Linked DNA regions of Homo sapiens: all the other regions are linked to region 1. The links come from fine-mapping of genetic effects on gene expression. A gene starts in region 1. Each other region holds a variant in brackets. All regions are shown on one strand. Distances are between the middles of the regions.

Region 1 (4,074 bases):
AGGCCATAGAGCCTCTGTCACAATTACTCAACTCTGTCATTGTAGTCACAGACAATATGAAAACAAAAGGGCATAGCTGTGTTCCAGCAAAACTTTATAAAAATGGGCCCACCCTTGAATCAGATGATCTTTTGGGGCGAGGAATGGGGCCAGGGTGGCCACCAGGGGCCGCTGTGGGTCCATGGCAAGGCTGGGCTCTGCACTTGAGGAAGGGGTGTGGTGCAGGGAGGGTGACCAGCACACTGAATGGGGGCACTAGGCTCCCAGATAAATAGTTCCAAATCACACAGCCTCTAGACTGAGGAGCTGGGTGGGATTCAAACCTAGGCAGGCTGACTTCACGGCCCGAATCCTCGACCTTCGGGGGGCCATGCTGCTGCCCAGTCTCTGGGGCCCTGAGAGGAGGCTGCCTAGGTCGAAGGCAAACAGACTGACCCTCATTCCTCTCCCTGACTCTCAGAACCCAGAGCCAGATGGCACAGTGTGGAGGCGAGTACCGATTCTGAGCTTCTCCCAGGCACGTGACCGGTCACTCATCCTTACACTCCCAGCACTTTGCCCAGGCACAGAAAAAGCACAGAGAGGCCTTGCTGCAAGCCAGCTCAACGTAGGGGAAGGAAGAGAGGAAGCTGCATCAAGGTTAGAGCAAGCCAGGCCTGCGGTCAGGGACTTACACTTCCCCAGTGAATCCAGGGCCTCTTGTGCAAAACAACCCCTTCGAGGCTCAAAATTTAGACAGAAATGACCGAAGCCCCAGTGCTGCCCGCTCACCTTGGTGAGCTCCTGCTGCAGCTGCTGCCACTGCTCGCTGTAGGTCTTGCGAAGCTGCTGCCGTTCCCGGATGAGCAGGCTCAGCTTGCTCAGGGGCCCTGAGTTCAGATCCTCTGCGTGCTGCCGCAGCAAGCGGCTCAGGCCCTCAGTTTGGCTGGTGATCTCAGCCCAGGACTATACAGCACAGATGGGGGAGGCAGGGAGGGGGGCACAATGGCTCCCAAGCATTGGCCTGCCAGATCTCCAGCCACTGCCCCAGAGGGCCCCCAGGAGAGGAAGGAGAAGGCAGATACAGCCAGCACCCACCAGAGTCCCATAGAGACCCACCTGACTGATGGGGCTGTCAGGGCTGATGGCCCGGCTCTGGCCCCCACTGTCCTGCAGGGACATGTGGTGAAGCAGTCCTGCATACTCCCTGTCACTCTTGACCCGCTGGGCCATCCACTTTCTCATGCCCTCCAGTAGACGAAGCTCGGCCTCCTGCATTTGCTGCAGGACCCCGTGGCCCTGGGGGCTGCACAGCTCGGAAGAGAAGCCCATAGTGCTGTTCTGGGGACAGAAAAGGGGCCATCCCTGGAGGCAAGGCAGCAGCTGGAGACGGAGGCATGGGACGAGGAGACTGGGGACTGTAGGGTCAGGATGGACTGCAGACGGGGAGGAGGTGGGGTCCTGCCTCGCTCACACGCAGCCATGGGTACCCAGCAGCAGCCTGGCCTGGGGACTGGCCCTCATTGCTTCCTTAGCGTCAGGGTCTCCTCCGCACGTTCGGGAACAGGAGCCAACCTGGAGCCTCCCTCCCCAGGCCCTTCCACCCACCACCCCTTACAGGGACACCCTTGCCCAGGTCCTCGACAGGCCAAGCCTGCCCCAGCTGAAGCCTCAGGCGCCCACAGCCTGAGCCCTGCCCCTGCGGCCATCCCCGCCCTTCCGCGGCCCCTACCCCCACCTGGGTGGGTCTCTGGCCCTCGGAACGCCTGCTCTGCCCCTGCCTGCCGCGCCCCCAGCTCCCACCGCTCCTCCAGGCCCCGGGGCTAGAGGTACCCGCACGGGCAGCTGCTCCTGGGACGGCCTCGGACCGACTCAGGCCCGGTGCGGACCCCGGCCAGTTCCTGATTCCGCGCTTCCTCCTCCCGCGGTTTCAGTTGGCCCAGGCCCCGGGGCGGGCCTGTGGAGGGGAAGGGGCGGGCGGGACCGGCCCGACCGCCCCGACGCCTGCCAGCCCCCCTGCTCCGCGCTGGGCCGCAGCCTCTAGCCGGCCGCACGGCCACGGAAACGGAAGGGAGGAGGGGGCCGGGAAAGAATGGCCCAGCCAAGAGCCGCCCGCGCCCCGCAGGCCCCAGGGCCCGGCAGCGCCCCGGGAACACCGGGAAGGGGCGCAAGGTGGGGGTCAGGAGGGGGAGCCCAGGGCGAGGCCCCAGGCAGATGCTGGGCCCAGGGAAGCCCAGGGTGTCCGCGGGTACTGAGGGGAGGCGCGCAGTCCTAGCACCAGGCCAGGGCCACCGCAGAAGAGAAAGAGGGAACCCTGGTCCCAGCCCTCCCCACCTCACGGAATTCCCTAAGGAGAGGCTCAGGCGCCAGCTTCCATTTGAATAAAATTTCCAAGTAAATATCCCGAACAGAGACTGCTTCTCGGATACAGATCCTAGTGGTTTTGTCCCCATCCTCCTACCCCCAGGCAGGGGCTTCCTGTCCCAAGGGAGACCTGGGGAAATCAAGGGGCAGGGGTTGGGGAGCGGACAGGCGTGGAGTTTTCCATTTGGGACTCAGGCTCCCCACAAGAAGTCATCTTGATTCAGTCAGGCCTCCCTCCACCTTAGGCCTCAGCCCTATAGCCTGTGGCGACCAGATCACTTCAGCCCAGGAAGACACAATAGGCCCAGTTCTTCACACTGCTGGAAACCAGGACTTTGGGAGTTTAGTGCTCAGCTCCTGAGGACCAGGGGTCACCAGCCCCACCCCAGGGGCACCAGCTCCTCCACTAGGGGCTGGCGCATCCTCCCGCCCCTTGGAGGACTTTGGCCTTCTGACTTGGGCCCACATCCAGGCAGGCAGGCCACTGTGTAGGCCTAACTGGCCCCCTATCCTCAGCTGCGATGCAGGAGCAACGGTACCACACTGGAGACTGGGCCTGGTTTGCATAGTCTGCACGTTTAATCACTTTAAAACCTCTAACATTATCTCATGTCCATTAAATAGAACCAGCAATGCTGGGCCTGTTTAAATTACAAGAAAAAAATCACTGTGCACCAACCCAGCATCTTACAAAACCAGCCGGGCTGGCCACGAGGGCAGGGGGATGGGAGAGGAGGGGGCACCCCTGGGCAGATGGCTGGGTACCAGGAATGGCTAGGGTAGAAAAGAAAAGGGGACTCCCAGATGGGAGGGGACTGATTGTCCTAATGGGAGGGGTGCAAAAGGCACGTCAGAAGAGGAGGTTTGAGGGGGGCATGACAGGTCAGTGCTTTCTCCACCAGGGCACAGTGTTGGGGGGGCTCAGTGCCACCACCTGCCCACCTCTGGCACTTGGAGAGCCAGTGACCTATGAACCCCCGGCATGGCGAGCCCCACTTGAAACACAGATGTCAGCCTGCCCCTCCCACTGGGACCCCCTTTCCTTGAGCCCGCCTGGCTGGCCCGCCTCTTCAGGACTTGGGGCTCAACTATTCCTCACTCCTCAGCAACATGCTGCAGCCCCCACACCTCAGGGCCAGGGCAGCCAGGGAGGAGCAGGGCGGACGGTGGGTGTGAGAACGTGGGTAGTCCAGCTGCTACCCCCATTAAAAATACAAAAACAAATCATCAGCATCTAAAGTGAAATAATCACAAAGTGAAAATATATCCTCAAACAGCCCCTGAGATCCCCACAGGGGAAAGCAGCATCGGGTGGGAGGCCAGAGAGGCCGGCTGGGCCAGCGCCCCTCCCCACCACCCACCCAGGGGCTCCAGGTCTGTGAGTGCCAACAGCCCAGGCAGCCCGGGCTCAGAAAACAGGGACTTGGGCCCTGACGGGAGAGGCGGGTGCAAGAGAGGGGAGGGTGGTCAGGACACCAGCACAGGGTTCAGCCAGAGCTTCGGCCTTGGCTGCGCCAGCCTGGTGGCCAGTGGTGGTGGAGGCACGGAGCACAGGGGTGGGTCATGGGACACAGGCCACAGGCCACATGCCACGTGCACACCTGGAGGCACCTGCCTTGCCTTGGTCCCTTCCTATGATGGCTGCTGCCGCCAAGACTCACCAGAGCTGGGGGACAGGGTGGAGGGTGCAGAAGCCCTTGGAGAGGTGGCCTCCTCCCTCAGATATCTCCT
Region 2 (4,074 bases), 250 kb after region 1:
GAATACTTTTAGATCTTATAAAATAATCTTGCAAAATAAAATTAAAGGTAATTCAATAACATAAGAACCACGAAAACAATAATTATGGACTAGCCTGGGCAATATGGTGAAACCCCATCTCTACAAAAAAAAAAAAATACAAAAATTAGTCGGGTGTGATGGTATACACCTGTAGTCCTATGTGCTTGGGAGGTTAAGGTGGGAGGATCACCTGAGCTCAGGGAGTTCAAGGCTGCAGTGAGCTGTGATCGCGCCACTGCACTCGAGCCTGGGTGACAGAGTGAAACGCTGTCTCTAAAAAAAAATAAAAATTATGGCAGGGCACAGTGGCTCATGCCTGGCACAAGGCACACTGGCTAATTCCAGCCCTTTGGGAGGCTGAGGTGCGAGGATCACTTGAGCTCAGGAGTTTAAGACCAGCCTGGAAAACATAGGGAGACCCTATTTCTTTCTTTTCTTTTTTTAATTCTAATTTTTTTTTTTTTTTGAGACAGAGTAACTCTGTCACCCAGGCTGGAGTGCAGTGGTGCAATCCTGGCTCACTGCAAACTTCCACCTCCAGGGTGCAAGCAATTCTCACGTCGCAGCATCCTGAGTAGGTGGGATTACAGGCGTGTGCCACCATGCCCGGTTAATTTTTGTATTTTTAGTAGAGATGGGGTTTCGTCATGTTAACCAGGCTGGACTCAAACTCCTACCCTCAAGTGATCCGTCTGCCTTGGACTCCCAAAGTGCTGGATTACAGGTGTGAGGCACACACCCAGCCCAGGGAGACCCTGTTTCTACAAAAAAATTAAAAAAATTAGCTGGGTGTGGTGACATGGGCCTGTAGTCACATTTACTTGAAGAATCCCAGCTGAGGCAGGAGGATCACTTGGGCCCAGGAATTCAAGGCAAGGGAGCCGCGATCGTGCCATTGTGCTCCAGCTTGGGCGACAGAGTGAGACTTAAAAATTATGAAATGTCCTCTCACCCTCGCCCAAAAGAGATCACTCATACGATCAACACGCCACGGCTAGTAATTGGTAAAGAGTGACCAATAACAAGATCCTCTAACTCTCCGTTGTGTTCTGTCAACTCTTCCTTCTAAATCATTAATTTATGGCGAGGTGGTGAGTAGTTAATGATGCTGTAATAGGCCGGGCGCGGTGGCTCACGCCTGTAATCCCAGCACTTTGGGAGGCCGAGGCGGGTGGATCATGAGGTCAGGAGATCGAGACCATCCTGGCTAACAAGGTGAAACCCCGTCTCTACTAAAAATACAAAAAATTAGCCGGGCACGGTGGCGGGCGCCTGTAGTCCCAGCTACTCGGGAGGCTGAGGCAGGAGAATGGCGTGAACCCGGGAAGCGGAGCTTGCAGTGAGCCGAGATTGCGCCACTGCAGTCCGCAGTCCGACCTGGGCGACAGAGCGAGACTCCGTCTCAAAAAAAAAAAAAAAAAAAAAAAAAAAAAAAATGATGCTGTAATAGACAGAGGATGTGACAAAAGGTTGAAAACACATTCCTCGATGATTATGGTATAAGGAGAACCACCTCTGAGTTTAGAATTTATAGGATGTTTCAACCCC[T/C]GTGTTTCTATAATGGGCTTTTCTTTTCTTTTGAGACAGGGTCTCACTCTGTTGCCAGGCTACAGTGCAGTGAGGCTATCTTGGCTCACTGCAGCCTCGACCTCCTGGGCTCAAGTGAGCCTCCCACCTCCGCTCTGGAGTAGCTGGGACTACAGGCGTGTGCCACCACACCCAGCTAATTTTTCCATTTTTTGTATGGGTGGGTGACTTTTAAATGTGCCTCTTTCTCAACAGACTTCTTTTCATCCTTATAAGAGATATAATCCTCAACATACTTAGCATTTCATGAACAATAAAAGTATTGTTTCTCAAATCTGTAGACAATTAGGGAAGAGGTCTAATTCATTATCAAAGCTTCAGGAAGGTATTAAATGTTTTCTTTGGCTTTCCCCTATGGCTTAATGTACTTAGAGAGTCAATGACTGATTTTCCATGCCAACTTTGAAATCCTAACCTGGTTTCCCTCAGTTGCCTTAGACTTACCTGGATGGCATTCTCTATATCCTACCGTTCCTCTCAACCCCAAGTTTGTGAGTTAGTGACTACAGATTGTTCAACATTTGCTTAAAGAGTAATCAACACAGCAAATCTGCTATTATTATAATAAAAAATCATTAATTAGGCTGGGTGCAGTGGCTCATGCCTGTAATCCCAGCACTTTGGGAGGCCACGCTGGGAGGATGGCTTGAGTCCAGGCATTTGAGACCAGCTTGGGCAACATATCGAGAACTTGTCTCTACAAAAAAATCAAAAAATTAGTCAGGTATGGTGGTGCATGCCTGTGGTCCCAGCTACTCCGAAGACTAAGGTGAGAAGATCGCTTGAGCCCGGGAGGTGAGGCTGCAGTGAGCCGCGATTGTGCCACTGCACTCCAGCCTGGGCAACAGAGTGAGACCCTTTCTCAAAAAAAGAAAAGAAAATCATGAATTCATTCTGCATTATTGACACTTCTGCTCTGATTTCACATATAAGAGCGAACAGACTGCACTTGAGACCTCATGGGTGCTTGGTGTAATAATGAGTGTAACCCAAAATAGTAAAGAGGAGGAATGCACTTCCTATATCTTGCAGTCTGTTTCACTGTAGTGGTTGGTCTGTCTGTGTGTGTTTACCTGGGAGGTAGGATATGGGGCCAGTGGGCTGGTTGAAGACAGCTGTCTGCTGAAACCTTGATGTGCTTCAGGGCCAGGAGAAAGCGTGAGAGGGCTGACGGGAGGCTGCCGACGCCGAGACGGGCCGCTCAGGTTTGTGGTGGAAAGAGATGGGTTGCTAAGGGAAAACAGACGGAGCGAAGGGTGAAGAGCAGATGCGTTGGGAACAGATGTCTGTGGGTGGTTATTTAAGGAAGAGGAAAGCACAGTCTTATTGAGCGTGGCTTGGATGGAGGGGTTACTCCGAGAACTCTGGAGACCTGGAAGACAACAAATTCACAAGTTACTTATAATTTCAGACCAAATCTTTTGTATTCCAAAAATGAAAGAAAACTGTCTACTGTCACATGCGATGATGATTCTGTAGGTAAAGGAGCTCCTGGACAGCTCTCCTACAGGGACTGCATCCGATGCACCAATGGCAAGGAAAAGATGCCCCTGCACTAACAGAGATGGGGCCACAAAGATGACAACGATGTTTTCCCATGAGGAGGGAGATCACGTCAACAACCCCTAGGTGAGCAAAACTAGGTAAACCGGGGTAACAGAGGCAAATATTCCAGGTGCTCGGCCCAGACCCAGGGAAAGGACCCTAGGGCTGTACAACAAATTCTGTTTAGAGCCCCGGAAGGTCTCTGTCCCAAGCACACTGCCTGCATCCCCTGCTACCTTTGGAGAACATCCTTCCACGGCGAGTCATGGCCCTTGGGGAGCTGTCTTGGTGGTCTTTAATTACCCTTAGCACACTAGGGAGTCACAGGAAGGGACACTTCCCTGTATCTCCCACCCCAGGGTCCCTCTTTGATTTTCTGGTTCCCAGGAAATTGTTCATCACAGTCTATACCAACTCAGGGAAAAGGAAGTTTTTGCTGGTGCTTTATTTGGGGGACAGGGGTGAATTTGATCATGAGCAAGGAAATTTGGGAGAGAGATCTTTGCAGCATAGGCTGCTAGGGCATGAGCTCCCAGAAACTGGGGATCCTGTCCTATGCCCTGCTGGATCCTCAGCACCTGGCACAGGGCCTGGCATGGAGCAGGTTCGCCCAGTGAATCAATTATTCGGCTGCTGCTGCTGTGTGTATCTCAACTGGCAATACCTACGTTTTAACCTTCAGCCCATCTTTCTTGTACCAGCAGGTGGGGTAAGCAGAACTATGTGTTGTTTCGTGTTGACAAAAAATTTAAGTGTTTGATAAAAGTTACGAAAAGGAAGAAATGACAAAAATCCAGCAGCTGGCAAAATTATTATTATCACTATTATTATTATTATTTTTTTTGAGACAGAGTCTCGCTCTGTCACCCAGGCTGGAGTGCAGTGACATGATCTCAGCTCACTGCAAGCTCCGTCTCCCGG
Region 3 (4,000 bases), 76 kb after region 1:
CCTACAGGCCACCCTACAGGAGCAGCATGGAGGGCACAGGACTCCACCATGGCTGCTCCAACCCTGGCTCACTGTCAAAATGTATTCGGAACAAGGCTTTTAATGGACTAATTACCATATAGAAGAATTTAGGAGAACCTGACCAGGTGTGGTGGCTCATGCCTGTAACCCCAGCACTTCAGGAGGCTGAGGCAGGTGGATCACTTGAGGTCGTAAGTTCAAGACCAGCCTGGCCAACATAGTGAAACCCCAACTCTACCAAAAAAATACAAAAATAAGTCAGGTGTGGTGGTGCATGCCTGTAGTCTCAGCTACTGGGGAGGCTGAGGTGGGATAATTGCTTGAATCTGGGAGGCATAGTGAGCCAAGATTGTGCCACTGAACTCCAGCCTGGAGTGAGACTCTGTCAAAAAAAAAAAAAGCGACTAGGTAAAGAGAGAACTTGAACTATCTCATCCTGCTCATCATTTCCATCATCCTTGGGAAGACCCCCACACTGCCTGTCTGGAAGCAGGAAGAACACTGAACCGGGCCTGTCTGTTGTGTCCTATTACGTGGTGATGTTATCAGAGGGCAGAAGACTTCTGTGCTCTCAATATTTCCTACAACAAAATGCTTTGTTGTTCTCATTTCCCCCAGGTCAATGATTTCTAAAGCTGTAATGATGATGAAGCTCATGATTAGAAGTGCCACAGGACAGGCCTAACGTGACTCCGGGAACGTCTGATAATGATGCACTCAGGCAGGTTCTATCAATGACTAACAATAATAACATTCTAGCTGCATGCTCATTTCTCCAAAACATTTAAACACTAGTCTTAAATTTTATCTTTAGACATGTTTGTCAGATAACATGTTCCTTCCTTGGTGGAGGAACCTGATTCACAAAGAGGCTATTGGTGGCCTGCTAGAGACCACACAGCATGACGTGGTGGCAGATCTGGAACTGGTACCCAGGGCTCTGATCCCTTGAGCACTTGCATTACGGGAACCAGCAACCCCTGGGCCCAAAGGTCCCCTTTTGGATCCTATGAGTAAGTTCAGAACTGGCACTCACAGGGGGCATAAGCACTAGTGTCCTCTCAGAGGTGACTGGCACACCACTGGGGGCTGACTTGGATGTCAGTGTGACGAGGTGTAGGAAGCATTCACACAACTGCATCCTTCTAATTCAGTGAGACGCGTCGCTTCACATTAAACAGGCTTTTAGAGAACACACATGGCTGTGTACTAACCTGGCGATGTCCATTCAGAGTATTTCTGTAATACTGAAATCACTTCCGCACCATATTTTTCCAGTTTGTCTTCAGTAACACCATCAATTTGAAGCAAAACCTCAGGATCAGAAGATAAAGATTCTGTGCAAAGGCATAAAATTAGGAATTTAAATTATCACCCATAGAAAACCCACTGAATTCAGGCTCATTCACGCATTCAGCACACGTCTGCTAAGTGCCAACTAACTGCAGGGTACTGGGAACACAGGCCAATTTTGTAAAAGGCAAAGTTAGCACCTCAGAGGCAGCAGACAGGCACAGAGGGCAGGAACCCACCATCCAATTCCAGCGGCATAGGCCAGGGCAGAGCAAGGGCAAGAGCCAGGGCAGGAGGAAGCTGAGGGTGGGACCTGTGCCATGTGCGTGGAGTGGAGCAGATCTGCTCTTGCCCACTGTTCCCATGGCCAGTACTCATCTAGCTGAGACTGGTGTGCCCTCTCTTTACTGAGAACGCTGCATTTCTATTTCCAGCTCCAGCCTCTTCTCTGCACTCCAGACTTGTACACCCCACCCTAGA[C/T]GGCATAACCAAATTGTTACTTCCTCCAGCACAAACTTTTCTTCCTCCACTCTTTCCCCATGTGGGTTGAGGCAACAAGCAGCCAGCTGAGTCCTCTGCATAGAGGTCGCATATCAGTCTTGCAGCTAGACAAGCCTGTCATTTAAAGGCCACCCTGGCTGCTGTTTAAGAACTTGACTGTAAAGGAAAGAGTAGAATCCGGGAGCCTGGTGGAAGCCATTGCAGGAGCGAGTGAGGATGGAGTGAACTGGAATGCAGTAGTGGAGACACAGTGAAGCAAGCTTGGGTGAGTTTTGGAGGCTGGCTCTGTAGGACTGACTGATGCACTGGCTCTGGGTAGTGAGGGAGTAACCATTCCTATGTATTTGAGCTGAGCAAAGAGTGGATTTCAAATCCTTTCCCATCTGTGATTTTCACATCATTCCCATGTTTAGAGGAAAAGCAAGAGACTGTGGACAGAACAGAAGGTTTATGAAGGGGGTTTAATGAAAGATAAAGTAGGAGAGGCAGGAAGAAATGTAGACCCTTGATAAAATGTATACTTTATCTGGGAAGCTGTTGTAGTTTTACTAGGTTTTGAAAGATTAAAATGTACATCACATTCACAGCTGGAGGTAAGGAGGACAGTTAAGAAACTACACTAATCGCCTAGAAATAACATATCATAAAATACCAAATTTCATCAATTCTAAGACACACACCTTTTCACAATTTAGCATTCCTGAGGTCAAGATATGTCTTAGAACTGCTGATGGCTAAATGGCAGCTGCCTTGCGGTTGTTACTGCTCATGCTTGTGAGAACTTAGTCATAGCTATTAGTACTGTCAGCATGTCAACAAAGTCACTGCACTGTTTGTACCTCATGTATTGAGTCTAACTGCCATGACATGTCTTCAAAAAGACTATACTGTGATTAGCATTAAAAAAGTGATTGTGAATGCAGAAAAGTTCTGAAACAGAGTAGCAGGGAATACATTTGGTATTAAGAAAAGCACTATCTGGCTGAGCGTGGTAGCTCATGCCTGTAATCCCAATACTTTGGGAGGCTGAGACAGGGCGGATTGCTTCAGCCTAAGAGTATGAGACCAGTCTGGGTAACAGTGAGGCCCTGTCTCTGCAAAAAAATAAAAAAGCTAGCCAAGCATGGTGGTACATGCCTGTAGTTCCAGCTACTCAGGAAGCTGGGGTAGGAGGATCACTTGAGCCCAGGAGGTCTAGGCTGCAGTGAGCTGTGTTCAACCACTGCACCCAGCCTGGGCGACAGAATAAGATCTTATCTCCAAAAAAACAAAACAAAGCAAAACAAAAAAAACCCAGGCACTATTTGTCTCTGAGGACACAGGCCCCCAATTCCATAGTTTCTCGCAAGTACAACCAAGTGCTTTACGTGACCTAAGAAAGAAGATGCCCAAAGTAGATGAGGCCGCACTACATTTTTGTTACTGAGAGATGTACAACCTTCTGTTGACACCTTCTGGTATCATCAAGAAACCACCACCTTCAAAACAGAACTGATAACAGAGATTTCGATTAAATCCTGGGGAAAATAGTGGAACACTCTGGAAATGCCTTATGGCTAATGAGAATGTTAGTGATGACATAGGGAAAAACAAAGACATGGACGACTCAGTCAAAAAGTGACTCAGAAGAGTCAGGCTTTGAATGTGAACTTTTATAAGTACCTACGGTAATTTGATTATATGTATTTTTCATACAGGCACACAGCTGTGGATAATAAAAATCAATGTCTAAATCAGTAAAACACAATTTTTTCAATAAAAGCACTGTGTCATAGTTTAATTAGCAGAATTTTTTCTTCCTTAATAGTCCATAAAGTAACAGTATCTTAATATAGTTGGCATCTTAGAGTCAGTGAAATATTGTAATGACCGATTATCGTAGGAGAGGGAATGAAGAAGAGAGAAGGTGATGATTATGAGATTTTATGAAGAAGAATATGGAAGGTAATATAGCCCAGCTGGCCAACTATATGAAGACGTTGTTTTCCAGGAACTCTACTACTGAAATTCTGGGTTGGGCTATCTGCCCATGGAAATAACTCAGACCAGTAAGTATTTATTAACTAAAGACATAGCAGTGTGCTAGATCCAGATTCAAAGAAGCATAAAACATAATCTCTTCATAAGGAAACTAGCTCTTCATTGCAGACTTTTTTTTTTTTTTTTTTTGAGATGGAGTCTCGCT
Region 4 (4,074 bases), 220 kb after region 1:
CATCCCCTCAGAGCAGTCCATTTTTTACAATCCATGAACCTACACATCATCATTGCCCAGAGTCCACAGCGTACATTAGGGTTCACTCTGCTGTTGAACATGCTGTGGGTTTGGACAAATGTACAATGACATGCATCCATACAGAGTATGGATGTATCATACAGAGTAGTTTCACTGCCCTAAATAGAAGCCTTTTTTTTGAGGTGTGTCCCCAGGTTTTGCCCTTTAGCTGAGAACTCTCACACTCACTGCCACTCCCAAGAGTGGACTGTGTCCCCATTCCAACCCCACGTGCTCACACAACCACAGGGCAGAGGGGGCAGCTGCCCCGTGGGGAAGTGCCCCAGAGACTGAGCCCATTGCTCAGTCTGCCCTGGGGATCTGGATGGGGACATCCAGAGACAGGGTCAGTTAGTGTAATCACCAAACTTGTTTGGATCATGGAAAGACCCACGTGTTTCAGCAGAGGTGAGGGAGCAGCTCTGCACAGCGGGGAGAGGGGAAAAGTAGGTGAGCTGGGGAAACAGGGAGAAGAGATTTCTGTCCTGAGGCAGGGACAGTTGGAGACAGAGTCAAACAGGATTCAAGTGATGGCAAGATGGAAAGACAGAAACAGGGACACAGTCGAAAAAAGATGCCACCGAGCAACAGAGGCGCAGACAGAAAGGAAGGCAAGCTGGGCCTGCTTTGGCTCCCCCTGGACATCCCTGCCCCCAGGCCTGGCTGCTCCTCAGCGCAGATTCCCAGGAGCTGCCTGGCCACCCTCAGATAAACCCCCCTAAAACCACGTGTTTCTTCTCCTTCCTCGTCTCCTTTTTTTTTTTCTAGACAGGGTCTCACTCTGTTGCCCAGTCTGGAGTGCAGTGGCACCATCTCGGCTCACTGCAACCTCCGCCTCCCAGGTTCAAGCAATTCTTCTGCCTCAGGTGCCACCATGCCCGGCAAATTTTTTTGTGTTTTTAGTTAAGACGGGGTTTCACCATGTTGGCCGGGCTGGTCTTGAACTCCTGACCTTAAGTGATTCGTCTACCTCAGCCTCCGAAAGTGCTGGGATAACAGGCATGAGCCATAGTGCCCAGACCCCCTTTTCTTCTTCACCTGGTGGAAGGGGCTCTTCTTTGCATCCACGAAATGCCAGGTGAGTCAGTCAGCAAACTGCTTGGGAATGATGGGAGCTAGGGCTGCTGTTTTGGGTCTGTTTTGCTCACTTATTTTTATCATTTTGAGGGGTTTCGGGGGTGAGGAGTAAGTGCTCCGCCCCCCACGCCCCACAAGGGATGGGAATTAGGCATGTCAGTCAGTATAACACAATTTTCTAAGTATGTCTCTTTGTTCAGACACCAGTATTTTTTTTTATTTTTTTTTATTTTTCTATCTCCAGTTATTAAGTCACTGCTGCTGTAGGAGTGCCACTTAAGTGCCTGGGTTTTTATTTTTGTCCCCAAGGTACAAAAAGTACTACCAGCCGCGCACAGTGGCTCACGCCTGTAATCTCATCACTTTGGGAGGCCAAGGCGGGAGGATCGCTTGAGCTCAGGAGCTCAAGACCAGCCTGAGCAACGTAGTGAGACCCCATCTTTACAAAAAGTTTAAAAATTAGCCGGGCGTGGTGGCGTGCGCCCGTAGTCCCACCTACTCGGAAGGATGGCTTCAGCCCGGAAGTTCGAGGCTGTGGTGAGCCGAGATCGCTCCACTGCACTCCAGCCTGGGCGACAAAGCGAGACCCTGTCTCAGAATAAGAATA[A/G]AAATAAAAGTACTGCCTACTTTCTGAACGCGCTCAGGCGGTGCCGCCTCAGGCGCTGTGGTGGGGCCGCGCACAGGCTGCCTGGGTGATCTCAGGAGGGCGAAGCCCCACGACGCAGGTTTGGGGCGGTCCTGTCCAACCCCCTGCGCATCCCGGGTGTCCAGAAACGCAGGCTGAACGCTGGAGCCCGGGGCGTCCTCGGTGCCGGAAGCGGCCGTGCGGCCGGAGCTCCGGGGAGGGACAGCCGGGCAGAGGAGCCGGGCTTTGGGGTCTCAGCCGTTTGCAGGGGTCCCCGGGCCCCCGTCCTTCCACGCGGAGGGCGTGAAGCGGCGGGGACGCGGCTGGGGAGCCCCCCCCGCGGCGGTGAGGACGCGGCGCCGCTCCCTTCCGGTGCTGCTCACCTGGAAGCCGGAGGCCGCTGGGGGTTTGGGGCGGCTGCACGCTCCGGGGTGGGGGGATGCGGGAGCCCGGTCAGGCCCAGCCGCCTTTCCCGGTGGTGAGGAGCGCTGTGCCGGGCTCCGGGGGTCTTACGCTTTCAGCTGCCGGGCCTGCCCCCGGCCACAACAAGGCCCTGACCCAGCTCTGTCGGGGGACGCTACCCGGCCCTGTCCCACTCCGGCCCAACGCTGTGATCCTAGGGTTCTCAGGCAACGGCCAGGCCGAGGGGCCTGCCATGTCCAGCTCGGGGCTGGGCTGTCACCGCCAAGTTAGATCCGGGCCAGCGCTGTGCTCGCGTTGCTTCACTCATTTGCTCACCCATGCATTGACTGACCGACTCCCCCACCAGGACCTAAGGGTCCGCTGCACCGGGCCAGGGGGCCCATCACCGTCAGCGGATTGATGAATTGCGCTCCCTTTTCAGGGCTCCGTTAGTTTTTGTTTTGTTTTATTTTTAAGACAATCTTGCTCTGTGGCCCAGGCTGGAGTGCAGTGGCGTGATCTTGGTTCGCTGAAGCCTCGACCTCCCAGGCTCAAGCGATCTCCCCGCCTAGGCCTCCAGGGTAGCTGGGACCACAGGCACGTGCCACCACACCTGGCTATTTTTCTGTTTGTTTTGTTTTGTATTGTTTTGTTTTGTTTTGTAGAGACAGGGTTTTGCCATGTTGCCCAGAATGGTCTCTAACTCCTGAGCTCAAGGGATCCTCCTGTCTGGGCCTCCCAAAGTGCTGGGATTACAGGCGTGAGCCACCACACCTGGCCTTTTTTTTTTTTTTTCTCTCAAAATCGCATCACACGCAGCACAGGGGTCCCTTAGTCTCTGCATTTCACCGAAGGTCGGAGATTTTCCTTGATTGTCTTTTCCCGTGGCCAACATCAGGGCTGGTGGCTTTAAGAGTCCTGGGGGACACTTTTCTCTTAAGGATCTGGTAGCTTTCACTCCATTGTCTCAGGCATTGACGGTTGCATGAGAAGTTCACGGTTGTCCTGATTATTAAGATCTTCGGAAATCATCTAAGTTTGAATTTTTTCTGCATGAAATTTGGGAGAAGTCTTTATTTATTTATTTATTTTTGAGACGGAGTTTCACTCTTGTTGCCCAGGCTGGAGTGGCCATCTTGGCTCCCTTCAACCTCTCACTCCCGGATTCAAGTAATTCTTGTGCCTCAGCCTCCCGAGTAGGTGAGATTACAGGCATGCGCCACCACACCCAGCTAATTTTTGTATTTTTAGTAGAGACTGGGTTTCACTATGTTGGCCAGGCTGGTCTTGAACTCCCGACCTCAGGTGATCCACACGCCTCGGCCTCCCAAAGTGCTGGGATTACAGGTGTGAGCCACCACGCCTGGCCAGAAGTCTTTATTTTTGTACCAAGTTTAAGAGTTTCGCCAAGAGATAGCTTAGGGTCAGTAGTCTCGTTTTAATTGGTACAAGATGACCCATCTCAGTTCATTTTAAAGTCTTGCATTCATTTATTTGACAAATATTTATTGAGTGCTTACTATATGCTAGGTAGGCACTGTTTTAAGTTCTGGGGAGAGAGCAGTGAAGAAAATAGACAAGCTCTTTGTCCTTAAGGATTTTACAATGGGGTGTGTGTGTGTGTGTGTGTGTGTGTGTGTGTGGTGTGAGTGAGAGAGAGAACAAGTTTTTGATTATTGATTTCCTTCCACCTGATTTATTTTATCCAGAAACTTAAAGTGTTTTTCCCTCATACTATATCTTCACACTTTATCCTAAATGCCTGGCATTTTCCCTTGTTTTCTTTTCATCTCTCCATTAATTTCCCTCACTTGCCACATAGGTTTCTCTTGTTGATCTTCTGCTTAATAATCCAATTTCCTGTAAGCCTATTTATTTCCGCTTCCAGGGACAATCTGATATGATGAAGC
Region 5 (4,074 bases), 65 kb before region 1:
CATGAGGTAGGTACTATAATCATCCCATTTCACAGAGGGAGAAACTGAGACAGAGCAGTTAAGTAACTTGCTTGAGGTTGCCCATTTGCAATCAGGGAAGCGAGGCAGTCTGACTCTAGAGTCTGCCGTGCCGTGCTGCCTCTTGGCCTGTCGCCTCCTCTCTAATGATGCGGAGCAGTCACTGTGAGGCTCACAGAAGCCCATGACCAAGGAGTGTTTCCCAATGTGTAAACTGCTGTGGGGGATATTCCGAATCCCGATGCCTGGTCCAGGCCCCGCAATCCCAAGGGACCTTACCGGAGCCTCTCGCTGATCCCAGCCAGGTTTGTTAGGGCCATGAGCGCCTCGAAGTTCTGCAGGCCTGAGCAGTTGAGGTGCAACAGGGAGACGAGGGGCCGGACCACCTCATAGATCTGCAATGTGCACCCCACCTGTCAGGGGTACTTGCCGCAGCCCCCACAAGCCCCACCAACCCTGCAGGGAGAAGCCCACCCCCAAGAGAGTACTGCTGTCTCAGGCTGTCCTCCCTGCCCCAGGCCTTGACAAAGCTGAAACTTCCTGCTGGTCCCAAAGGGGAGCTACAGCCCAGCCCACAGGCCATCAGGGACAGAGGGAGTGGAAAGGCCGGGGCAGGAAGACACGTACCCGCTCGCCAGGGAAGGTCATCTCCGGGTTGGAGGTGATGGTGAGCTTGGCAAGGGCCTGGGCTGCCTTTGTCTGCCCCACGTCCGTGCCTTCCAGGGCCAGCGGGATCAGCGCCTGTAGGAACAAGCCCGTCACTGCTCAGGACATCCCTGGGAGTAAGACCCCGACCATCGGGCTCCCCAGCCCTGACCGTGCCACCCTCACCTTCCTCCCTCTCCCCAGGCTTGACTCCCTGTGCAGACCCTCTGCATCCAAACACTTCCTGAAACACCTAATAAGGGCTGGACATGGATTGTGCTGAGCACCAGGGCCATGGGGGTAAATGAGACAAAGGAACAGTAGAGCCTAGGACCTTCACAGGCACCAGTGTGGAGGGGCCAAGGAGCTTGCCTGCTTCCGCGTCACTCTCTCAGCGGGACGGTGTTCCTCTGGCCATTAATGTTTTTCTGTTCCATATCTAACACCCAGCTCTGGCGTGGCAGCTGCTGAGTCATGTTTTATAGGCTGATGGCTCAGCCATCAGGAAGGGGTGTGTAAACCAGCTTACCCTGCCGCCTCCCTGGGCAACCACAGTGCCTCGGTCCTCTACCTCTTCCACTAAAGCCAAGAAGACCCTGTGGGGAGAAGGCGGTGGTGGGCAGGCAGCTCTGGGACTCTGGCAGGCAGACGCTGCACTCCTAGGCTCAGCAAAGACGGCAGCCACGCAGGCAGCCCCCGTCGCTCTAAGAGGCCCACAGCACTGGAACCTGCACCCTCTGGAGCCACATCTGCAGCCCTGAGGCTCAGGAGTTGGGAAAGGTTGGCTCCTACCAAGGCTGGCTCACCTGGAGAGCAGCTCTCTGCAGGAACTGGTCAGCACAGGGCTCTCCGTCTTCACCATGCACACCATGGCCGACACCACACCCGCTGCCAGCAGCTTCTTCACCCGAGCCCGCACGAAGCTTGGCTTGTCCTGGGGGAGGAGGCAGCTTAGGAGAGGGGCCTAGGCTGACTCACAGAGAAAGGGGGACCCTTCTCACAGCAGTAATTGAGGAACTGGGAAATAAAACAGCCAGACAAAAGGAAACAAACTGGCTTAAAAGGGAGGCTGTTGGCTGGGCACGGTGGCTCACACCTGTAATCCCAGCACTTTGGGAGGCTGAGGCAGGCGGATCACGAGGTCAGGAGATCGAGATCATCCTGGCTAACACGGTGAAACACTGTCTCCACTAAAAATACAAAAAATTAGCCAGGCATGGTGGCGGGCACCTGTAGTCCCAGCTACTCGGGAGGCTGAGGCAGGAGAATGGCATGAACCCGGGAGGCGGAGCTTGCAGTGAGCCGAGATCGCATCACTGCACTCCAGCCTGGGAGACAGTGAGACTCCATCTCAAAAAAAAAAAAAAAAAAAAAGGGAGGTTGTTCTGCTGTGGATGCCCTGGGTTAGCTGTCCCCATGGTGGGGAACCCTCTAGCCCCTCTGGCGGCCCCTCACCTTGGGGTGCTGCTCGGGCACATGCTGCTTGGCATACTTGGCCAGCTCCACCATCTTGGGGTCGGGCTCCTCGTAGTCATAGCTGTTGGTGCAGTTCACCAGCGCTGAGGCCACCGCAAAGAGCACTGACCTCTCCTCCAACTGCCAGGACACAGAGGAATTCACATGGGCATCCCGGGGCAGAGCAGTACTCAGATAAATGCTGCCCAGGCCCAGGCCCCCAATTCCACCCTCAGCTGGGACCCTTGGGTACAGGATGAATTCGGGAAACTCCCAGGCCCCAGACTTTGGGAGCTTACAAACTTGACCTCCCCAGCTCCTCCAAGAAGAAC[G/A]TCCTTGCTAACACCACTGGTGCTGGCCAACATGCCCACACTACACAGAGCAGCCACTCAGCCACCAGCCCTCTTCCCTGGGGTCAAAAGACCCCATTGGCCAAGCCCTGCCGAGAAAGCCTGGTAAGGTCTAATCCTAGACAGTGTCCCCAGGCTGACGGCAGGAACCACAGAGCTACCCTGCTGAGCTGGAACAGAGCTTTCAGAGCAGCCGCATCCTCCACAAACTCTTCCTTCACGTCGGCATCAAAGGTCAGGTAAGCCAGGCCCTCCACTGCCCAGCGCCGAGTGCCTGCGTCGATCTGGTCATTGCACAGCCACCTGGGGACACGCAGGATAGTGGACGACCCTCAGGATTGGGGGTACGGAGGGGTACACCAAGGCCAAGGGGGAAAAACCAAGGGTTTGGGCATCCCCTCAATGTACAGAAGCAGTTCACGTACCAGGATCCAGACTGCAGCCCCTGCCTGAGCCAGAGAGCAGGACGGAGGAGGCCCCAACCCCCACCCAGACCCCTGTGTCTTGAGATCTACCCCACAGGTGGGGAACCACAGCAAGGCCAGATGACTCACTTTCGACACTGCTTAGCCAGTTTGAGAGTGGAGCCTTCAGCAAACTGCTTCATGCTGAAGTCAGTCCCTCCAGCCGAACCGAGCTTACAGAGTCCCTGGAGGAAGAGGGCAAGACCAGTTGGCCTCTGGGGAAGGAGGCAGGAGCTGAGCTCCTCCACACCTGGCTTGGACTCCCTCCCTGGCACTCTGCCATGGCCCCCTGGAAGCTACACAGACAAATCAGCACCCTCTCCCTCCAGACCACCACCTAGAGCATGTGGCAAGAAAATCAGCTACTGGGGTGGCCGCATGACACAGCATCTGCAGACACTGATGCGCTGGCCGCTGGACAGTCGTGGGCCCCACCCCTTCCCAGGCCACACTGAGAATGGCTCTGTTTCCTTCCATGTCGCACAAAGAAGCCCTCTGCAGGTGGAGTTGAGAGGCATGTGGGGAGAGGACAGGTGCTTCAGCCACAGCCAAATCCTTATGGGATGGAGAAATCCAGGACTGAGTGCCCCAGGGAGGAAGACCAGCTTCCACAGGGTGCACAGCCACAACAGGCTCATGGAGGGCCAGGTAGTCCCCAAACCCCCAAACCACCAGCTCCCAGGAACACTGCATGACCCCTGCAGGCCCAGTCTTAAGCCCCATGGAGGGAGGAGCCATGCCGATGTCTCTCACCACAAGAAAGCCCAGAATCTCGTTCATTCATCCATTTATTTTAGAGAGGGTCTTGCTGTGTTGCCCAGGCAGGAGTGCAGTGACATGCGTGACTCACCACAGCCTCAACCTCCTGAGCTCAAGTGATCCTCCTGCCTCAGCCTCCCAAGTAGCTGGACCTATAGGCATGCACCACCAAGCCTAGCTAATTTTTTTGGCATTACAGTATTCCTTATTTTCATCTGGAGTGTGCTGGGGCCACACCCTGCAACACCGGCTGGACCAGGACCCCTGCCTGGCTGCCTGCCCACCCACCCCAGGCCCACCGTCTCACCACTAGCGCCCGGATGCGGATGCTGTCCTTCTCGCTGCACTTATATAGGTCCTTCAGCAGCGAGACACCATTGGCA
Region 6 (4,074 bases), 61 kb after region 1:
TTGTTTTCTCTTGGCTTTGGAGAGGGCTTGGCTCTCAGCAAAGGAGATGTGGAGTGAGCCACTCTCATCTTTGCCCCAGTGCTTTGGTGCCTGGGGTGCCCGGGGTGTCCCTGGGAGTGTCTGTGCTGTTGAGGGCACCTGCTGAGGCCTGCATCATCTTCCCTGAGGCAGAATCTTACAACTTTCGGGGGTTGCTGGCTCCTTTGACAACCTGAGAAAGATGGTGGTCCCTTTCCCAGAAATCTGCAGAGACACACAAGAATAATACATGCACTTGAGGGGTTTAGATACCCTCTGACATCTATTTCAGGATTTTCCAGGGGTTCCTAGAGCCTGGATTGAGACCTATATTATGGGGTGTTGTCTACCTGTTCTGCCAATTTCTAGAGCTCCAAAACCTGGATGCTTACATTATGATTGGATAGCTGGGTGTAGCCATGCCTGAAGAAGGCTTCTTTTTTTGAGACTGATTCCATAAAAGGATTAGTTTGAGAATGGCTGAGACCCACTGAGTGAAAACGATGTCCTGTTTATTCACCAATCAACTTCTGCACAAATATATGCGGCAAACAATGAGTACATATAGTGTCTACGTATTACAGTACAATAACCTTCACTGAGATCCAGACACTCCGTTATGGGCTGAGCAGGCATTATCCTATTAGTCTTCATAATCCCCCAGTCGACCCTGTGGGGGATCTGTCAGAGTGGTGGGAAAAACTATAGGGAAAGGATGCAAACCTTCCGAAAGGTCAGAAGGTTTTGCAGAGCCCTGGGGGAGAATAACTGAAGGCAGCTGTTCTATAACCCTGAGGCAGAGGGCAAGGAGTAGGTACAAGGGAGTGTGGGGGAATTTATCTTAAAAGGCTTGTTTGTTTATGTTGTCCAGGAACTGACCTTTGATCATGCGGGTGTGAGGTTCCCTGAAAGGGGAACAATACCTTTTTTTTTTTTTTGAGATAGAGTCTCACTCTGTCACCCAGGCTTAAGTGCAGTATCACTGTCTCTGCTCACTGCAACCTCTACCCCGGCAGGATTCAAGCAATTCTCCTGCCTCAGCCTCCCGAGTAGCTGGGATTACAGGTGCGTGCCACCACTCCCAGCTAATTTTTGTATTTTTGGTAGAGACGGGGTTTCACCATCTTGGCCAGGCTGGTCTTGAACTCCTGACCTCATGATCCACCTGCCTTGACCTTCCAAAGTGCTGGGATTAGAGGCGTGAGCCACCGTGCCTGGCCACAGTAATTGTCAGTTACCTGCAGGTCGTGTCGGCTCCAGGTTTTCCACATTGTGCCTGCACTGAATAAAAGCAAGCAGCTCCAGCTTCTTGGGGCTGCTCTCTGGCCACTTGAGCCAGGCAGTCACCCAGCTGCTCTTATGCTGTATGCCTGTGTCTGAGAACTCATTTCATCCGTTGGCCAGGGTCTATGAGACAGATCTGGCACCACCCCACAGTATAGTGCTGTTATGAGCTCCCTGAGGCACAGAGAAGTTAAATAACTTGCTCAAGGGCTGAAGGTCACACAGCAGGTGGTAAAAGTGGCCTTTGACCCCAAGCAATCTGACTCCAGGGCCATTCAATAGTCTAAGAAATTGCAGGCCTGGCATGGTGGCTCATGCTTGTAATCCCAGCACTTTGGGA[T/C]GCTGAGGCGGGCAGATCACCTGAGGTGAGGAGTTCAAGACCAGCCTGGCCAACATGGTGAAACTCTGTCGCTACTAAAAATACAAAAATTAGCTGGGCGTGGTGGCTGGCACCTGTAGTCCCAGCTACTTGGAAGGCTGAGGTACATGAATCGCTTGAACCCAGGAGGCAGGGGTTGCAGTGAGCCAAGGTCGCGCCATTGCACTCCAGCCTGGGTGACAGAGCGAAAGCCTGTCTCCAAAAAAAAAAAAAAAAAAAAAGAATGGAAAGGAAATTGGTAGGTGAGGCTGTCCCCCATCCTGTTCTGGGACTTGAATCTGTTCCCCGCTCAGGCCACTGGATCCTGCTGGGGCCCAGGCAAGAAAAGCGGGCTCTAGACCAACCCTGCAATTGCATTTTTCTAGAAAGCCTTCATCACACGTTGCAGCTTAAGGTCCCAGTCTAGGGGTTCTCAACGGACTGTATCTTGAAGTGGCATTTGCCTGGCCCGGCAGGGAGACAGGACTCTGTTCTCAGGCAGATTTGGGTGGTAACATGACCTCATTTGACTCCCAGGCTGGCAGGGCCTGGGAAATATCAGTTTATGCTTGTTTCCAGAGTTTTAAAGGAGGTTTCCTTTGCCTCTCATACACTGCAAAATGCCTGCTTGGAGTGATGCTTTGCTACTTGCTTCCTGGTTGCCGAGTCTCCCTTTAAGTTCTGAGTCTCTCTCTAAGAGGCCCTTTGGTGTTGGAAGGGGCTTAGAACCCTGGCTTTGTCATGAGTCCCTTTCCTGAAAACAGCTCCCGTGCAAGGCTGTTCCACTTCCACATTCTCAAACACCCTCCCTCCCACAGATCCCCAGCCCACCCCGACAGTCTTGTCCAACTTGAGGATGGAGGTGACAGCCATCACGGAGTCTAATGCCCTCACTTTTTTTTTTTGAGACAGGGTCTCACTCTGTTGCCCAAGCTGGCGTGCAGTGGTATGGTCATGGCTTACGGCTCACAGCAGCCTCAACTTCCCCAGGCTCAAGAGATCCTCCTGCCTCAGCCTCCTGAGTAGCTGGGACTATAGAAGCACATTACCAGCTGGGCTAATTTTTAAATTTTTTTGTAGAGACCGGGGTCTTGCTATGTTGCCCAGGCTGGTGTCAGACTCCTAGGCTCAGGTGATCCTCCCACCTTGGCCTCCCAAAGTGCTGAGATTACAGGTGTGAGCCACTGCACCCTACTCCCTCACTTTTGCAGATGGGAAACCAAGGATGAAGGAGAGGAGAATGCCTTGCCCAAGACCTCAGTGCTAAAATTCTCGGCAGCTGTGGTTTGTATTCACCTGGGGCTGGCAGCATCGGGACCACCAGGAGACCCGGTGGAAATGCACACCTCTGGGGCGCACTCCAGACTTGCTGCATCGGAAGCCATGGCACAACCAGCTCTCCAGGTGACTGAGGCTAACACAAGTTTGAGAACTACTGCCCTGGCCCTTGCTTTCTCGGCTGGGACTGACGTTCTGCACAGGTAGGACCCAGTGACAAACTTTCACCTCCCAACTGCTCCATGTACCTTGGTCCCCACAAAAGCCTTCCTCACACACAAGTAAACTCCAGAAACAAAGGATAGGAAAGAGCTAGAAGCAGACACTGGTGGTTATGAACATCTTCACATGATAGACAATGCAGCTCCAAAGTGAGGAAAACTGGCTTGCTATTTCAGCACAAACAAGACGCCAACCAGCCAAAAACATTGGTACACAAGCAAAAGAAAACCTAGGCCAGGCACGGTGGCTCACACCTGTAATCCCAGCACTTGGGGAGGCCGAGGCGGGTGGATCACCTGAGAGGTCAGGAGTTCAAGACCAGCCTGGCCAACATGGTGAAAACCCATCTCTACTAAAAATACAAAAAATTAGCCGGGTGTGGTGGCCCGCGCCTGTAGTCCCAGCTACTCGAGAGGCTGAGGCAGGAGAATTGCTTGAACCCAGGAGGCGGGGGTTGCAGTGAGCCAGAATCCCACCATTGCACTCCAGCTTGGGCCACAGAGCAAGACTATCTCAAACAACAACAACAGCAACGAAAATAAAAAACAGAAAGGAAAAGAAAACCTAGGCTGGGCATGGTGACTCCCGTCTGTAATCCCAGCACTTTGGGAGGCTGAGGCGGGCAGATCACCTGAGGTGGGGAGTGTGAGACCAGCCTGGCCCCCATGGTGAAACCCTGTCTCTACTAAAAATACAAAAATTAGCCAGATGTGGTGGTGCACGCCTGTAATCCCAGCTACCTGGCAGGAGAATCACTTGAACCCAGGAGGCGGAGGTTGCAGTGAGCCAAGATCATGCCACCACGCCACTGCATTCTGGCCTGGGTGACAGAGTGAGACTCTGTCTCAAAAAAAAAAAAAAAAAAGAAGAAAATCTAAGTGAAAACTGCTGAAGCCAGCTGGAAAGCGGCTTCT
Region 7 (4,074 bases), 38 kb after region 1:
CAAAACTCCGTCTCAAAAAAAAAAAAAAAAAAAAAAAAAGAAGGCTGAGTGTGGTGGCTCACACCTGCAATCCCAGCATTTTGGGAGGCTGAGGCGGGTGGATCATGAGGTCAGGAGATCGAGACCATCCTGGCCAACTGGTGAAACCCCGTCTCTACTAAAAATAAAAAAAGAATTAGCCAGGAATGGTGGTGTGTGCCTGTAGTCCCAGCTACTCAGGAGGCTGAGGCAGGAGAGTTGCTTGAATCCAGGAGGCGGAGGTTTCAGTGAGCCGAGATCATGCCACTGCACTCCAGCCTGGGCAACAGAGCAAGACTCCGTCTCAAACAAAAAAAAAAAAGAAAGAAAAAAAGAGGCACGTGGGGGCTTTGGAAGGCACTGGCTATGTCCCATTTGTTGTTGTGTTTTTTATTTTTATTTTTTTTAGACGGATTCTCGCCCTTTCGCCAGGCTGGAGTGCAGTGGCACGATCTCGGGTTACTGCAAACTCCGCCTCCAGGGTTCAAGCGATTCTTCTGCCACAGCCTCCCAAGTAGCTGGGACTACAGGTGTGTGCCACCATGCCGGGCTAATTTTTGTATTTTTAGTTGAGACGGGGTTTCACCATATTGGCCAGGCTGGTCTCAAACTCCTGACCTTCTGATCCGCCCTCCTCGGCCTCCCAAAGTGTTGGGATTACAGGAGTGAGCCACCGTGCCTGGCCTTACATCCCGCTTGTTGATCTGGATGCTGGCTACACAGCTGGGGTCACTGTGAAATTTCATCAAGCGGCACCCTTATGACTTGTACACTATGCATGTTGTAATCAAACAAAAAGTTTATTTAAAAAAGAAATTGTTCCTTACCCTGAGGTCATAAAAATATTCTTCTATATTTTCTTCTAAATGTGTTAAAATTTTGTTATTCACATGTAAGTCCTGAATCCACCTGGAGTTGTGTGTGTGGTGTTAGGTGGGGATCTAATTTTACTTTCCCATATGGATCACCACTTGTCCCAACGCCATTTATAAAAGAGTCTATCTTTTCCCCACTGGTTGGTGATGCTTCTCTGTCATACGGCAAATTCTCATTTATGCAAGGTTCTGTCTCCGGGACTCCTGTTCTGTCCTTTTTTTTCCCTTTATTTTTCATTTTTAAATGGGCTCTCACTCTGTCACCCAGGCCGGAGTGCAGTGGCATGATCTCAGCTCACCGCGGCCTCAACCTCCCAGGCTCAAGTGATCCTGCCACCTCAGTCTCCCAAGTAGCTAGGACTACAGGCATGTGCCGCCACACCCAGCTAATTTTGTTTTTGTAAAGACAGGGTCTCTCTGTGTTGCCCAGGCTGGTCTCGAACTCCTGGGCTCAAGGGACCCTCCCACCTTGGCCTCCCAAAGTTCTGGGTTTACAAGCATGAGCCACCGCACTCGGCCCCCCCTACCCTTTTTTTTTAATAGCCAGATGCCAAAGCCATTCTGTCTTAATTTCTTTAAAAATTGTTAATATCTGATAGGACCCTTTTGAGGACTTTAAGATGAGAAATGGTCAGAATGATGCTGGGATGAGGTCACTCTGATGAGAGGAGAATGGGTTTTAGAGACCAAGGCCAAAGGGTCAGGAGGAGCTGGTGGTAGCTATGGTGACCTGGCAGAAGGTTAGCAGCCCAGCGTGGGAGGTGGCTGGGAAGTGCACTGAGCGCACTGATGATGTGCCGAGGTAAAGCAGACGGGACTCGCCGAAAGATTGGATGTGGGGGTGAAGCAAAAATTGGGATCCAAGATGACTCTGTGGTTTTTGGCCAAAGTAGCTAGAGGAGAGTGGAGCCACGGGCTGAGATGGGAAAGCCTGGGGTGACGCTGACAGGTGGGCACTTAGAAAGTGCTCGATTTGGCAGGGCACGGTGGCTCACATCTGTAATCCCAGCACTTTGGGAGGCCAAGGTGGGTGGATCATGAGGTTAGGAGATCGAGACCATCTTGGCTAACACGGTGAAACCCTGTCTCTACTAAAATACAAAAAATTAGCCGGGCGTGATGGCGCGTGCCTGTAATCCCAGCTACTTGGAGGCTGAGGCAGGATAATCGCTTGAACCTGGGAGGTGGAGGTTGCAGTGAGCTGAGATTGGGCCACTGCACTCCAGCCTGGTGACAGAGCAAGACCCGGTCTCAAAAAAAAAAAAAGAAAGTGCTCAATTTGCCAGGCGCAGTGGCCCACGCCTGTAATCCTAACACTTTGGGAGGCCGAGGCGGATGGATCACCTGAGGTCAGGAGTTCAAGAACAGCCTGGCCAACATGGTAAAACCCCATCTCTACTAAAAATACAAAACTAGCCGGGCGTGGTGGTGGGTGCCTGTAATCCCAGCTACTTGGGAGACTGAGGCAGGAGAATCACTTGAACCCGGGAGGCAGAAGTTGCAGTGAGCCGAGGTCATGCCACTGCACTCCAGCCTGGATGACAGAGTGAGACTCCATCTCAAAAAAAAAAAAAAAAAA[AAG/G]AAAAAGAAAGAAAGTGCTCAATTCACCAGGCGTGGGCCACGCCTGTAATCCCAATACTTTGAGAGGCCGAGGCAGGAGGATCGGTTGAGCCTGGGAGGATGAGGCTGTAGTGAGCTGAGATCATGCCACTGCACTTCAGCCTGAGCGACAGAGCAAAACCCTGTCTTTAAAAGAAAAAAAAAGAAAATACTCAATCCACGCTTGTCTGAATGAATGAGCAAATGGGTGGGTGGGCATGAGTGAGAGGCAAGGCTACCCCACTGCCTGCAGCCCACCTGTCTGAGTCCTCAGGGAGGATTAAGTGAACCCCCCTTGCTCACAGGGTTCTGTGTCTCAGTGAGTCTGTACCACGTCCCCCCAGCGGGACTGTCATTGCTGGCAGCACTCCCCGCTCCCCACCAGGCACATCACTAGGCCCCCCATGCTCTTGGTCCCAGGCCACAGGTTCATGGAAGGCTCCCAGGCCCAAGGGAGCTAGGGAGGGCACAGCCAGGCCCTTGAGGCTGCAGGTCTGGCCCTGTCACTCATCTGCCTCCTCAGTTAAGGAGCCTCCAGGTCATTTTGGGGGCCTGTGCTATTTGCCAGCACAAAGCAGCACCAGTGTGGAGAAGCCACAGCCTCAGAGGCCCTGCTTGTGGGTGGGGGCTGAGACCTGAGTGTTCAGGACCAGATCACCGCTCTGTTTATAGCCCGCCTCTGGCTCATCATCACCAGCTGTTATGAAAGCACCTTCAGTCCATAAAACGTGGAAGTTGCATCTGAGTGCTCAGGCTGAGTCATTTCTCTGAGAAAGCCTTCAGCTGGAGCAGCATTTTTTTCGACCAGGCCTGGAGTGGGGCTCCGTGTGGGTCTGTGTTTACCCTGTGGGCAGCCCCAGGGGGCCTGGCAGGCCCTGGGCACAGGCTTCATTTACTCACTCATTGAATCAAGACCATTTTTAGGCTGGGCACGGTGGCTCATGCCTTTAATCCCAGCACTTTGGGAGGCCAAGGCAGGAGGATGGCTTGAGCCCAGGAGATTGAGACCAGCTTGGGCAACATAGTGAGACTCCATCCCTACAAAAAAAAAAAAAAAATTTGGCCAGGCATGGTGGCACGTGCCTGTGGTGCCAGCTACTCAGGAGGCTGTAGGGGAAGATCGCTTGAGCCCAGGAGGTCAAGGCTGCAGTGGGCAGTGTTTGTGCCATTGCACTGCAGCCCGGGGGACAGGACAAGGCACTGTCTCAAAAAAAAAAAAAAGGAACCAGTTTTAGCCAGGCGTGGTGGTATGCGCCTGTGGTCCCAGCTACTCAGGAGTCTGAGGCTGGAGAATTGCTTGAGCCCAGAAGTTCAAGGTTACAGTGAACTATGATGACATCCAGCCTGGGTGATGGAGTGAGACCCTGTCTCTAAAAAAGAGTTTTAAAGAATTATTTTTTCTTTTTTTTCTTTCTTTTTTTTTTTTTTTTTTGAGACAGAGTTTCACTCTTGTTGCCCAGGCTGGAGTACAATGGCATGATCTCGGCTCACTGCAACCTCCGCCTCCTGGGTTCAAGCGATTCTCCTGCCTCAGCCTCCCGAAGAGCTGCACCACCACGCTCAGCTAATTTTGTATTTTTAG

Which allele goes with the higher level. Alleles are on the strand shown, and positions count from the first base shown. SD is a standard deviation of normalised expression in the study named. Not every link is listed here.
For the expression in ovary of the gene that starts at base 1,853 in region 1, allele A in region 5 goes with a lower level than allele G (large effect, 0.79 SD a copy in GTEx).

What was found.
Region 2: its variant is fine-mapped to the expression of FES in whole blood (TOPMed, PIP 0.98).
Region 3: its variant is fine-mapped to the expression of FES in blood mononuclear cells (TOPMed, PIP above 0.99). The same link has a PIP of 0.9 or more in monocytes and whole blood.
Region 4: its variant is fine-mapped to the expression of FES in whole blood (TOPMed, PIP above 0.99).
Region 5: its variant is fine-mapped to the expression of FES in ovary (GTEx, PIP 0.95). The same link has a PIP of 0.9 or more in lung.
Region 6: its variant is fine-mapped to the expression of FES in whole blood (INTERVAL, PIP 0.97).
Region 7: its variant is fine-mapped to the expression of FES in macrophages (Nedelec 2016, PIP 0.95).

Annotation. Positions count from the first base shown.
Region 1 is chr15:90,882,283-90,886,356 of GRCh38, reverse strand. It overlaps FES (FES proto-oncogene, tyrosine kinase), which reads right to left and starts at 1,853. Exons shown (of 19, transcript NM_002005.4): 1 at 1,813-1,853; 2 at 1,099-1,320; 3 at 772-945. The coding sequence starts at 1,311. FURIN (furin, paired basic amino acid cleaving enzyme) reads right to left here. Exons shown (of 16, transcript NM_002569.4): 16 at 2,900-4,074. RefSeq lists enhancers at 708-1,137, 2,675-2,804 and a silencer at 1,768-2,277.
Region 2 is chr15:90,628,140-90,632,213 of GRCh38, reverse strand. It overlaps CRTC3 (CREB regulated transcription coactivator 3), which reads right to left. Exons shown (of 15, transcript NM_022769.5): 11 at 2,682-2,980. All of the region lies in intron 3 of CRTC3-AS1 (CRTC3 antisense RNA 1), which reads left to right. Among named protein-coding and RNA genes, the nearest start is that of LINC01585, 30 kb to the left of the region's middle. The variant T/C (reference allele first, on the strand shown) is at 1,570.
Region 3 is chr15:90,806,495-90,810,494 of GRCh38, reverse strand. BLM (BLM RecQ like helicase) reads right to left here. Exons shown (of 22, transcript NM_000057.4): 20 at 1,236-1,358. Among named protein-coding and RNA genes, the nearest start is that of FURIN, 60 kb to the left of the region's middle. The variant C/T (reference allele first, on the strand shown) is at 1,795.
Region 4 is chr15:90,663,494-90,667,567 of GRCh38, reverse strand. All of the region lies in intron 2 of CRTC3-AS1 (CRTC3 antisense RNA 1), which reads left to right. It overlaps LINC01585 (long intergenic non-protein coding RNA 1585), which reads right to left. Exons shown (of 3, transcript NR_120371.1): 3 at 2,614-3,213. Among named protein-coding and RNA genes, the nearest start is that of LINC01585, 5.3 kb to the right of the region's middle. RefSeq lists a silencer at 1,901-2,280 and enhancers at 2,461-2,720, 2,761-2,810. The variant A/G (reference allele first, on the strand shown) is at 1,745.
Region 5 is chr15:90,946,839-90,950,912 of GRCh38, reverse strand. It overlaps UNC45A (unc-45 myosin chaperone A), which reads right to left. Exons shown (of 20, transcript NM_018671.5): 10 at 3,999-4,074; 11 at 3,023-3,117; 12 at 2,630-2,771; 13 at 2,119-2,259; 14 at 1,470-1,597; 15 at 1,193-1,259; 16 at 646-759; 17 at 298-413. Among named protein-coding and RNA genes, the nearest start is that of RCCD1-AS1, 5.6 kb to the left of the region's middle. The variant G/A (reference allele first, on the strand shown) is at 2,451.
Region 6 is chr15:90,821,094-90,825,167 of GRCh38, reverse strand. No RefSeq gene overlaps it. Among named protein-coding and RNA genes, the nearest start is that of FURIN, 45 kb to the left of the region's middle. The variant T/C (reference allele first, on the strand shown) is at 1,643.
Region 7 is chr15:90,844,512-90,848,585 of GRCh38, reverse strand. The region is part of intron 2 of LOC105370969 (a long non-coding RNA gene); the gene reads right to left. Among named protein-coding and RNA genes, the nearest start is that of FURIN, 22 kb to the left of the region's middle. RefSeq lists enhancers at 3,254-3,373, 3,131-3,747. The variant AAG/G (reference allele first, on the strand shown) is at 2,473.